Linked DNA regions of Homo sapiens. The protein of the gene in region 1 interacts with the protein of each later gene in a pairwise test. Each region holds a gene or a part of one and is shown on either strand. Other genes may lie near its edges. The genes, in order: DAB1, ZNF488 and TOLLIP.

The links.
Region 2: the proteins of DAB1 (region 1) and ZNF488 interact in binary tests that used the Homo sapiens proteins (3 or more experiments, as listed by UniProt).
Region 3: the proteins of DAB1 (region 1) and TOLLIP interact in binary tests that used the Homo sapiens proteins (3 or more experiments, as listed by UniProt).

What each region holds. Positions count from the first base shown.
Region 1 is NC_000001.11:56,997,311-57,001,060, reverse strand, and holds part of DAB1 (disabled homolog 1), read left to right. Parts: intron 1-2,913; exon of another isoform or gene 2,914-2,932; 3' UTR 2,933-3,750. UniProt on the Homo sapiens protein: Signaling adapter of the reelin-mediated signaling pathway, which regulates the migration and differentiation of postmitotic neurons during brain development.
Region 2 is NC_000010.11:47,382,510-47,386,259, reverse strand, and holds the start of ZNF488 (zinc finger protein 488), read left to right. Parts: upstream 1-1,966; 5' UTR 1,967-2,040; intron 2,041-2,423; exon of another isoform or gene 2,424-2,526; intron 2,527-3,750. UniProt on the Homo sapiens protein: Transcriptional repressor. Plays a role in oligodendrocyte differentiation, together with OLIG2. Mediates Notch signaling-activated formation of oligodendrocyte precursors.
Region 3 is NC_000011.10:1,296,011-1,299,760, forward strand, and holds part of TOLLIP (toll-interacting protein), read right to left. Parts: intron 2,555-3,750; exon of another isoform or gene 518-2,554; coding exon of another isoform or gene 446-517; intron 1-445. UniProt on the Homo sapiens protein: Component of the signaling pathway of IL-1 and Toll-like receptors. Inhibits cell activation by microbial products. Recruits IRAK1 to the IL-1 receptor complex. Inhibits IRAK1 phosphorylation and kinase activity.

The DNA.
Region 1 (3,750 bases):
CTGCTGGGGGTTTTCCACACCACTGCTCCCCTTCATTAGTGGGGATAATTGAGAGTTGACTGCAGTCGTTACTGCTGTTGTGATGGGTATTTGAAGCTAAATTCGGGCAAGTAGGAGATGTGTGAATATTTATCTCAGCTGCAGAAACTTAATGCAGTGTGGCATTAATTACCCTGTCTGAGCCTGCTGTCTTCTTCTGTTTTTAGGTGTCATTTTCAGTTGGATAAATTAGTTTCCAAAATTAGAATAGAGCAAATTGTAGGGTGAGATCAAGGCAGCCTGACTTCTTGGGGCATCCAAAAAGAAGAATGAGCTGAGAACATCTATCCAGGAAACATTAATATGCGTGCTTGAAGCCCAGCACAGGCAAAAGGAAATATTTTTCCCCAGTAGTTGTACTTAACTATTTTTGACTCCACCTACTGCACTTGTAGAACACAAACACACAATAAAGTTACATGTTTAGCCTTACAACATGTATTTGAAATAGTTCAAGAGACTGGAAAGGAATAGATTTGGTGTTTAATAAATCATAATCTTACTATAGATTTTGCTACATTTGATTTTGAGAGAATAAAGCCAAATTGGAGTGTATTTAGGACAAAGGGATCAGAACTGTGAGGAAACTAGAAACAGCATTATAATCATTCAGTAATTCAACAGACTCTCATTGAGGACCTACTGTGCTAGGTTCATATTTGTAAAATGGCAGAAGGAGGCCTGGCGCGGTGGCTCACACCTGTAATCTCAGCACTTTGGGAGGCCGAGGTGGGCGGATCACAAGGTCAGGAAATTGAGACCATCCTGGCTGACACAGTGAAACCCTGTCTGTACTAAAAAATATAAAAAATTAGCCGGGCGTGGTGGTGGGCACCTGTAGTCCCAGCTACACGGGAGGCTGAGGCAGGAGAATGGTGTGAACCTGGGAGGCCAAGCTTGCAGTGAGCCGACATCGCGCCACTGCACTCTAGCCTGGGCGACAGAGTGAGACTCCATCTCAAAAAAAAAAAAAAAAAAAAAGGCAGAAGGAACTGGCAAGTGGTAACCTAGAAGTAGGACATGGAAGAATGGGCTTCCGTACTTTTCTGTCATCAGACATTTGGACGAAGGATTGTACTTATTTACATTTCCAAGGGCAGTAGAAAGTCTACGGGCAGAAGGCATGGAGGGACAAGTTGGCACTTTGTTACACTGCATAATAGGGTGCCTCCAAGGAAAGAAGTTCCTTCCCACTGGAAGAATACAAACATAACAAGTTCTAGAGGAACCAGAAATTGGATCTGATGGCAGGAGTCTTGGGGTCTACTCTTGGCATGGATACTAAGTAACCCTGTGACTCTGAAGAAACAAAAGCTGTCTTCACAGGACTTCAGATTCCTCATCTGTACAATGATGGGCCAGTACAACCTTATCTTCTAGGCCATTCCACTTTACAGTAGAAAGCAAGCAATATGATATGCTACACACAAGAGACAGCACAATGACCTTGAGATCACACAACCTTTCAGAACTTCAGTTTTTATCTGCAAAGGGAGGACTCAAAAAATAAAAGCCACCCTCAGGACTATAAGGCAGATAAATAAGACATGAGGTGCTTTGTAAACTCTGAAGCACCAATGGATGGAAAGATTGGGGTCTCTCTCTCTCTGTCTCTCCCTCCTCATGGTCACTGTTGTAAAAGATTAGAAAAAGCACTGGCCCCTGGACCCTGTTTTCAGTTCTCATGTCTCTAGACTTACTAGCTGTGTGACCATGGGCAAATTATCTAACTTCTCTGTGCTTAATTTCACCCTTGCAAAAGAGATAAAGCATCTGCCTTACAAGGCTGTTGTGATGAGATAAAAAGACAATGTACTTGAAAATACCTAGCATGGTGCCAGACACATGGTAGGGGCTCCCAGAATGCCAATTCATTTTGAAGTTTCAAGAAAAAAGCAAATAATAAGAACCTATATGACAAGGCAGGGGACAAGCTAATATATCAAATATGGTAAAATTAGGATTTCATTGTGCCCGTTTAATTCTGGCACAGACCTCCAAGAGTGACAGCATAAAGGTCAATTTTAACAGAAGGTCCTGTGCATGCTTAAAACCACAGTATCCATCAAATCTGCTTGGCCAAGGCACAATGAGCCATCTCAACATCAGCTGAAGTCTGACGGGGTTTAAATAGGGCCGAACGCTGTTTCCTATCTAGGTGTGGATTGCAGGTTTGCTGCATTACATGCTGGTTGAAAATCCCTGTATGTGTTTCAGGACAGCCCCCTGGGTGCAGGCAAATGACTGGCCAAAGTGGAGGGCTCAGACTGAATGGAAACAAGTCCAGAAGTTTGTGATTAAGAGACAAAGACACACTTGCTGTTTCTCTGGCTCAACAGTGCACCCAGGCATCACTATTTGTAGAAGAGCAATTTGAAATAGAATTTCAGGGTTCTCAAGTGGACATTTATGAAACTGTGTTGGAAAAATGTCCACTTGTCTCATGGTAATTGTTAGCAATTTCTGAAGATGTATTGCTAGCAAGCATTGTGCTAGATACTTTATATGTGTAATCTCTAATTCCCTCAAGAACCCCGTAGGATAAACAGTACTATTCCCATTTTGTGGTTGGAGAAACCAAGACTCAGGATAAGTATCTTGTCCACATGACACAGCTTTTCTAACTCTCCCTACTATACCATGCTACTTCCCTAACAGGGCAATCAGTTCCAACTTGAAAACGAAAGACAGAACTGAGTGCATAGCTATTTTGGATAATAAAAATGTTGCCAAAATGTTATGCACCCTGATCAAATACTCCAAAAATAACCTAAGGTCATCCATCATAAACTGTCACTTTTCTGTTTTAATCCTAAACCCCTTTTCCCAAAGCTGTCTCAGAAAATCCATGCAAGTGTAAAGAGCAGGCCTCACTTTGTTCCTTTATCCACAGGAGCCAGAGCCTCTGTACGCGCAGATCAACAGACCTAAGAAATAGCATCGATGCGAGCTCGTGGTGGGTGCTCAAGACTGGCATGGACATCAGCATCACGACAGGCTCTCTTGTATTCTTTCACCTCTTCCCACAAGAAATTCATGATTGCCCAATGGAACTCGCTCAGAAGAGGGAACTAAGCATTTTTGGCAACCAATGGCAGATATCTATGGCAGCACACAAAAAAAGTATAGAAAGATCCACCCAACATTAAATCAGAAATCAAGCAAATGCTTACCCAACAAATATTTGAGCCCTCATAGCTGGGTTTAAGATGACTCAGTGTGCAAAATTATTAATTCCCTTTTTATTTCTCTACCTGTTGACCACTGTTGAGACACCAAATTTGGAGTGACAGGCATCAGAGGATTACAACAGGGTTGGAACTGACTTCTTTAAGCAAAAGCAAAGGGTCTTCTGTGACCACAATATCGTCATCCATATGCCTTTTCACATAGGATGATGTGTTTTTTGTCACTCCATGGGGCCTGGTCTGCCATTTTCCCCCCTTTCCTTTTTTTGTCATGTTTGAAAATTAATAGGTGTACAAATTTTTGTATTGCTTTTGACTTTTTTTAGATATGGGTGAAGAAATCTAACTGGGGAGAAAAAAAGCCTCAGTGAAATGAATTAACTTGAAATTACAAGACAAATAAGTGGTTGATTATTCATTATGATCACGAATGTTGCCAAAACAGTCCTTTAGCTATTCTGCATCCTGGTGAAGAAAGACAGCTTTCAGTACGAACCTTCATTCTGTGAGTAGGAAAAGACAT
Region 2 (3,750 bases), on another chromosome or scaffold:
CAGGGCCAGAGCTGCCCAAGGCCGTGGGAGTCCACATCTTGCACCAGCATGACCTGGGTGTGAGACATGGAGTCAAAGGAGGTCATTTTGGAACTTTAAGGTTTAATGACTGCCCTATTGGGTTTCAAACTTGCATGGGGCCTGTAGTCCCTTTGTTTTGGTCAATTTCTCCCATTTGGAATGGGTGTATTTACACAATGCCTGTACTTGCATTATATCTAGGAAATAACTTTCTTTTGATTTTACAGGTTCATGGGTGGAAAGGACTTGCCTTGTCTCAGATGAGACTTTGAACTTGGACTTTTGGGTTAATGATGGAATTAGTTAAGACGTTGGCAGACTGTTCGAAAGGCATGATTGTGTTTTGAAATATGAGGACATGAGATTTGAGAAGGACCAGGGGTGGAATAATATGGCCTGCCTCTGTTTCCCCACCCAAATCTCATCTTGAATTATAGTCCTTATTGTAATGCCCATATGTAGGGGGAGGGACTTACTGGGAGGTGATTGAATCATGGCGGTGGTTGCCCTGTGCTGTTCTCATGATAGTGAGTGAGTTCTCAGGCAATCTAATGGGTTTGTGAGGGGCTTTTACCCCCTTCACTCTGCACTTCTCTCATTCTTCTCCTTCCAGCCACCCTGTGAAGAAGGACCTGTTTTGCTTCCACTTCCACCATGATTGTAAGTTTCCCGAGGCCTCTGCATCCATGCTGAACTGTGAGTCAATTAAACCTCTTTCCTTTATAAATTACCCAGTCTCAGGCAATTCTTTATAGCAGTGTGAGAATGGATTAATACAGTCTAAAATAGATCTTTCTTTATATAACTTAAAAATTACAAGTGATGAAAAGCATTTGAGTTGGTTGGTTGTCAGTTTTTTCCCCCTCTTTTGGAGCTGTATTTAGTATAATAGAATATCTTAAATTAGTGGTCTTTTATAATAAATGAAATTGGGTGTACTTCGCCCCAGCATATTAGGGTTCCCTTGCTTCATGCCTTCCATGACAGTTGGTATTATTATATTTTAACATTTATGCCTAATGATTAAACATCTCCTTGTGGTCTTAATTTGCATTTTCTAATTACTCTAGAGACTTCGTCCTTTCACATGATTTTGGTCGTTAGTGGTTCCTCTTTGAAGTGCCTATTCATGTCTGTGTCCATTCGTTGCTTTGGGTGTTCCTCTCTTTCACACTAATTCATTAAAAGTATATATCCTGGATACTAATCCTTTATCAATTGCTGCAAGTATCTTCTTTCAGTGTGTGGCTTGCTTTTTCACTCCGTTTGTTGTTTTTTAATCAAAGTATAAGTTCTTAATTTTAACGCACTTTAACTGTCATTTTCCACCATGGCCCGAGTCGCGGAGTCCGCCTTCCTGGCAGAGCGTTGCGTGGTCACAGCTGAGGTCTGGGGAGCAGAGGCGGCGGGCGCTCCCGGGGGGAGCTGGGCGATTCCGGCGGGGGGAGGTGCCGATCGAGCGGCCGCCAGGCTGCTGGGGGAAGGAGGGCCAGGAGGCCGTGGGGGTCCTCGGCGCAGACTGGAGCCGCAGGCACCGCGCGCAGCCCTCGCCCGCATCGCCGAGGCCCCGCGGGCCCAGGAGCGAGAGGTCGGGCGCCCAGGACCAGAGGGCGTAGGCGAGAGCAGGCACCGCCTCCAAAGAACGCCCTCGCCCTCCCGCAGGCGATGGCGCCCGGCCCTGACCAAGCCAGCTGGGGGCATCTCCGCGGAGCTGAGCCGGGGAAGGGCCGGGCAGCCCAGAGGGTCAGAAGGGGGTTTTCTCCCGGGGTTGTGAGTTCTTTGGCCAGCGGCACCCTCCCCTGCCGGGGCCGCCCACCCGCAAGCCCCGCCCCGAAGGCTGGAGCTTCCCTGGGGGTGGGCGACGCCGAGACCACGCCCCGAAGGCGGGAGCGGCTTGGGGGCGGGATCTGGCCGCCCTCAGGGCTCCGGCGCCAAGTTCAGAGCCACGCGCAGTGCTCTTGGCCGGGAGGAGGCTGTGCTGCACCAGCACCTCTTGCTCCACATCTCCAGAGAGCCCAGGTGAGGCGCACCCTCCTGTCTGCAGGGACAGAGCCGCGAGCGGGCGCGGGCGGCGGGGTCCATCTCACTTCCACATCAGCCTTTCCCCAGGACAGGGTTGTTGAGTCCTGCCTTTGACTGTGGGGTCCTTTCCTTCCCAATGTCGCCAGCTTCCTCTCTCTCCCACGTCGTCTCCGAGTCCCATCCCCGTTTCTGTTCCCTTTCTCTTCTCTCACTTTTTCTCCTCTATCTCTTCTTTATTGTCTTCCTGTTTTCATTTTCTTCTGTGTCAGTCTCTCTCCCTCTCTCTTTTCCTCTCTTTGTTTATTCTTCTCCCCTACCTTCTCCCTCTCCCCCCTGTTTTTTCAGCACTCAAGAATTCTGCCTATGAATTTTTCTCCTAGGGTGACTTTCAGGCTGCAGTTGTTTTCCTCCCTCCCACTGTCTCTCCCGGGGTTTATCCTGTGTTGCTGTTATTCTCAGCCCGGGCTTGCGCTGGGCAGTAGGGTAAGAACCATGCATCAGCCCCAGATCCTTTCTCCAACAGATTATATCCAAAGATCTGGACATGTATCCTGTTCACTGCCTTTCCTGGGAAACAAAACAATACCAAATGATCACATTATAATGAGTTTTTAGAATGAGCTAAAAGAACATACCTGGTTTTAGAGACAAGGGGTTGATTGAATCCTTTCCTTGACATTTTGCCTTTACTAATAGACACAGACAGCACAGCAGGAAGCTAAGCCTTGCAGAAGCATTTAGGGGGCGTTCCCACCCACACCTGCCTTCTGGGCAGGCTATGCAATGCCAGGTGCAGGGGAGGGAGGGGACAGGATTCAGAGCAGGGTTGTAGGAAGACAGTGGGAGGCCAGGGCTTTGAAACATTTGAGGGAGCCTGGAAATAAGAAATTAACAGTAAATTTCTAAAATATGTAGTTGCCAATGCCACTGATGTACAGAAATGAAATTAATTACTCCTGAGGGAGACATTAGACATTTTATGGCAGTAATTATGGCATTTGAAAGTAATGATTTTATGTACATTAGATAGGAGGGCCAAGGGGAAAATATTTCCTGTTAGTATCAAAGATTGTCGTAGATGCATAAGGGACGAACTCTAGAAAATCAAGTCTCATTCTTTTTGAGGGATAAAATAGAACTATATCGAGGCAATTTTTTGTTTCTTGGTTACAATGTAATCTTATCAGAGATATGTGATTTAGTTTTTAATGATATTTTATGACACATACATATTTATATGTTCAAACACACACAAATACATAATATATATGCACTAAGTTATAAAAGAGCCCTTGTTTGTTTGTAAAGATCTTAATTACCAATAAAGGTTGAAGCTTTCACTTCTTGGAAATAAGTTAACATGATATTGTAGTTTATTATGACCTTTAATGAAAATTCAACTAATTTACTTTTGATTGATACAGAAATGGAAATTTGGCCGTAGATAAATCACACAGAATTAAACAGAAATTAAGTATGATGAAGGTGCATTGCAGTGTGTTCAGTGAAAGAATTTGCATATGCTAGATATTTTGGACAAATTCATAGGTATGTGCATGGAACTGTGATTTGTGAGGCTTTTTTCTGGTTTAAAAAGTTAAATTGCCTTTATATCTAATCCCTGATCCCCAACATATGCGGATTCTGGGGGGAGGGATAAAAGACTTTGCAAATGATTTAGAATCATCGTGTCTGCTTTGCTTGGCA
Region 3 (3,750 bases), on another chromosome or scaffold:
CAGGAGATCCCCAAATGCAGGTTTCTGCCGCTAAAAATGGGTTCCTGTCCTCAAAGCCTGCTCAGGTGGGTTTTCAGGTCATTTTAAAGGGTCTCCCTTGCACCATGTGTGCCCACGGCTTCTTTCTCCTTGTCCACAGCTAAAGGCAGGGCCACTGAACTGCAGGTCACTTGGTCAAACGAATGAGACAAAAGCTGAGCCTCAGGTCTAAAGTGATTTGGAAAACCCTCTGCTGATATACTTCAAATGTTTCCACATGAAACAGCTGAAATTCAAAAGTATCCCAGAAGAACGCAGGAAGTAAATCGATTCCAAACAACCACGAAAGACCTCCCCACTCTGCATCCTATGTCTCCTCGACCCTCTGTCCACCACTGCCACTTCTGAGGGGAAGAGAGAGGATGGGCCCAGGCAGGACAATGCCATCCCGAAACCACCCGCACACCTGCAGCGGCCGAAGGGGCCTGGGGTAAACCATGCTCCACAGGTGAAAGGTCGCTGATGAGGCCCTGAGCATGGGTCTGGCTGCTGGTGGAGTGGGGTGGAGGCCTGGTTGCTGGAGGAGTGGGGTGGAGGCCTGGTTGCTGGTGGAGTGGGGTGGAGGCCTGGTTGCTGGTGGAGGCCTGGTTGCTGGAGGAGTGGGATGGAGGCCTGGTTGCTGGTGGAGTGGGGTGGAGGCCTGGTTGCTGGTGGAGTGGGGTGGAGGCCTGGTTGCTGGAGGAGTGGGGTGGAGGCCTGGTTGCTGGTGGAGTGGGGTGGAGGCCTGGTTGCTGGTGGAGTGGGGTGGAGGCCTGGTTGATGGAGGAGTGGGGTGGAGGCCTGGTTGCTGGTGGAGTGGGGTGGAGGCCTGGTTGCTGGTGGAGTGGGGTGGAGGCCTGGTTGCTGGTGGAGTGGGGTGGAGGCCTGGTTGCTGGTGGAGTGGGGTGGAGGCCTGGTTGCTGGTGGAGTGGGGTGGAGGCCTGGTTGCTGGTGGAGTGGGGTGGAGGCCTGGTTGCTGGTGGAGTGGGGTGGAGGCCTGGTTGCTGGTGGAGTGGGGTGGAGACCCAGCCGTCTGCAGGGGCCCCGGTCAGCGCCAGTGCCCTGGGCAGTTGTTTTCAGGAAATACCGAGTGGAACCTGGAACCCTCGGTGTGTCGGACGTGAGCTTAGGCAAAGTGCACGTGCTGAGGCCGCCAGAACGCCTCTGCCATGCACACCAGAAACCCGTACCTGCCTGTGCCATGGACTCCCAATGACACGGTGCCAGGCAGGGCTCCAGGAGGTTCTGAGTTAAGCCCTGCACCTGCTGTGCTCTGGGCGCCTGGCACTTCAAAGGACCCCGAGAGGGTCTAGCTCCTCACCTGTGTCCCCATCTAAGGCCTGGAGCGCACAAGCCAGTCAGCGCTCCACAACCAATGTGAGTAAACAGAAGGGACCCGGACGATCCAGGCACCGCTTCGAGCAGTTACGGACTCAGGACCCCCAAGTTCGGGAAGCTCTCTGCAGGCTGCACCCCAACCTGAGCAGCCAGCATGGCGTGTGCTCAACCGCTCTTCTCTAAAAAGCAAAACACACTTTGTGCGTTTCCCCACACTTTACCCCGTTTTTGACTGGGACACGTCACGAGTGACCTTTGCCCTGTGAGAGAAGCCGTACTGCGAGAACAAGCAGAGCACCCCGGCTTCACCTCCGGAGGGTGTGGCATAGGCCAGGGCCCGGAGGGACCCCCTGCCCTTACGGACAATCGAGGAGGGTGCAGAGGTGCCTGAGCGGAGTGGGCCCATGCCAGGAGTCCCAGGCCAGCCTCCCCCAGGCAGCCTCTCTCGAGGCGCTGTACAGCTCAACAGCAAGCTCTGGCTCAGGAGGGCGCTGAGAGGCCCCATGGCACGAGATGCTAAGCACCTGTTCCTGTTGGCACACAGGAAACACTGGGGTACAGAAGGCCAGGGCCCTTCGCCTGCCTCCCAGAAGGATTCACAGCCCAGAGCTCTCTCCCCGGGGGACACCTGGCCACACAGGACGTGCTTCCCTGCCAACCCCACAGGGCCCTGGCACAGCCCATGCCAGCAGGCTCTATGACTAGCTCTGTCTGCTCACCAGGAACGGGTTATCTTGCAGAAACAGACTCGTGCTAACCAAGTTCTCAGGACTAACATACACAGGCCAAATTCCTGTTTATTTGTGACAACTGCTTCCTGTGTGCCACATGCACAGCTCTGAGGACATGGCAGGAAAAGCACCGTATCTCCTGGGCACACATGGCAGACAGACAGGCGGCTCGTGCCCTCCTGGGCACACGTAGGGGACAGACAGGTGGCTCATGCCCTCCTGGCCACACGTGGGGGACAGACAGGCGACTCATGTCCCGGAGACAGCAGCATGGAGAAGCCAGTCGGGGGAGGGTGTGGGTGGTCACAGGGACGTGTGGGCGTGGGGTCCAGAGGCCTCTGAGGGAGCACTGTGGGTCCCTCGCTGCTCTGGATCCTGGTTGTCCCGGTATTTGAAGGCGTCCAGCGCTCCATCTCCTTGCTCTGCACTCTTTAGGTGTCCGTTAAAGACAGTGGGACTGCTCATTACTGGGAGAAAATAAAATTATATCCAAAGGCCTAATGATCAAGTGTCATTTTTCAACAAGGATTTAACCATAAAATGGCAAATAGGAAAAGAGGGTTTTTAAACATAAACCGTGTGGATAGAACACGAAAAGGGGAGAAGCAGCTCCCTGCGGATGGAGCTCATCAGCCCCACGCAGCCCGGGGACCGCAGCCAGCGCCATGTGGCGGGGCAGGTGCGCGTCCAGCTCCCCGAGATGACACACGCCTCACATCTGGGTTTTCTTCCCAAAAACCCACACCCCAATTAAGAGACATCTGACAAAATCCCTGACCAGTCAGTCGTCCTCAAACCGTCAAGGTCCCAAAAACACAAGGAAAGCCTGAGAGACGGTCCCAGATTGGAGATGGCAGACATGATGGCTAAACGCAAGGCAGGGTGCTGGGACAGCAGGGGACAGTCATCGAAAAACCAGGACAGCCAAATAAAACCTGGAGCCAACAGTCATGCCCCCAGCTCAGCGCCACAGCTGTGAGAGCTGTTCCCGGGGAGGGGAGCGTCGGCCAGGGGACATGGGTGAGACACACAGGACCTCTTCGTGCCAGCTTTTCAATTCGTCATAAGACTGAACACTACAAAATTCAAGGTTTTTCAGAAAAATATTCCATTTAACCTGAAGACAGGAAGAGCAAGAGAGGAGACGGAGACCAGGCTTCAGTCCTCCCCGTACAAATACTGGTTACGCAACCTGCTGCCCCGCCTACCAGGGAGAGGCGGCTTGCCTGCTGCTGCAATGCCCTCGTTTCTCAACTTAGAGCAAAGCCCTTCAAACGAGGAGGGAGTGCTACCAGTTCATGCTTCACGAGTCACAGGGGAGAGAGTCCAGGTGCTGAAGTAAACCCTATCGTTTCAGTGACGACACTCGGTCCTTCAGTAAATGTCTATTTTGAATTTATTTTTTAAATTCAGTGCTAATCCTAAAATTTATTTTTGCCATATGATGATGGAGGAACTATTTCAATGGTCACATAAAAATATATGCTTTACCCTGGTTCAAAGGCTTGGAAATATGAAAACAAAAATGATTACTCCCGATACATAATGGATATTTTTCTAGAATTTTGCTTCCATGTACAAGATGCACATACTGAGTTCAACACTAACAAGTCTAAATGCCCGTGTGAAGGCCAACAATTCCACTTCAGGAGCCAGTCCCCTG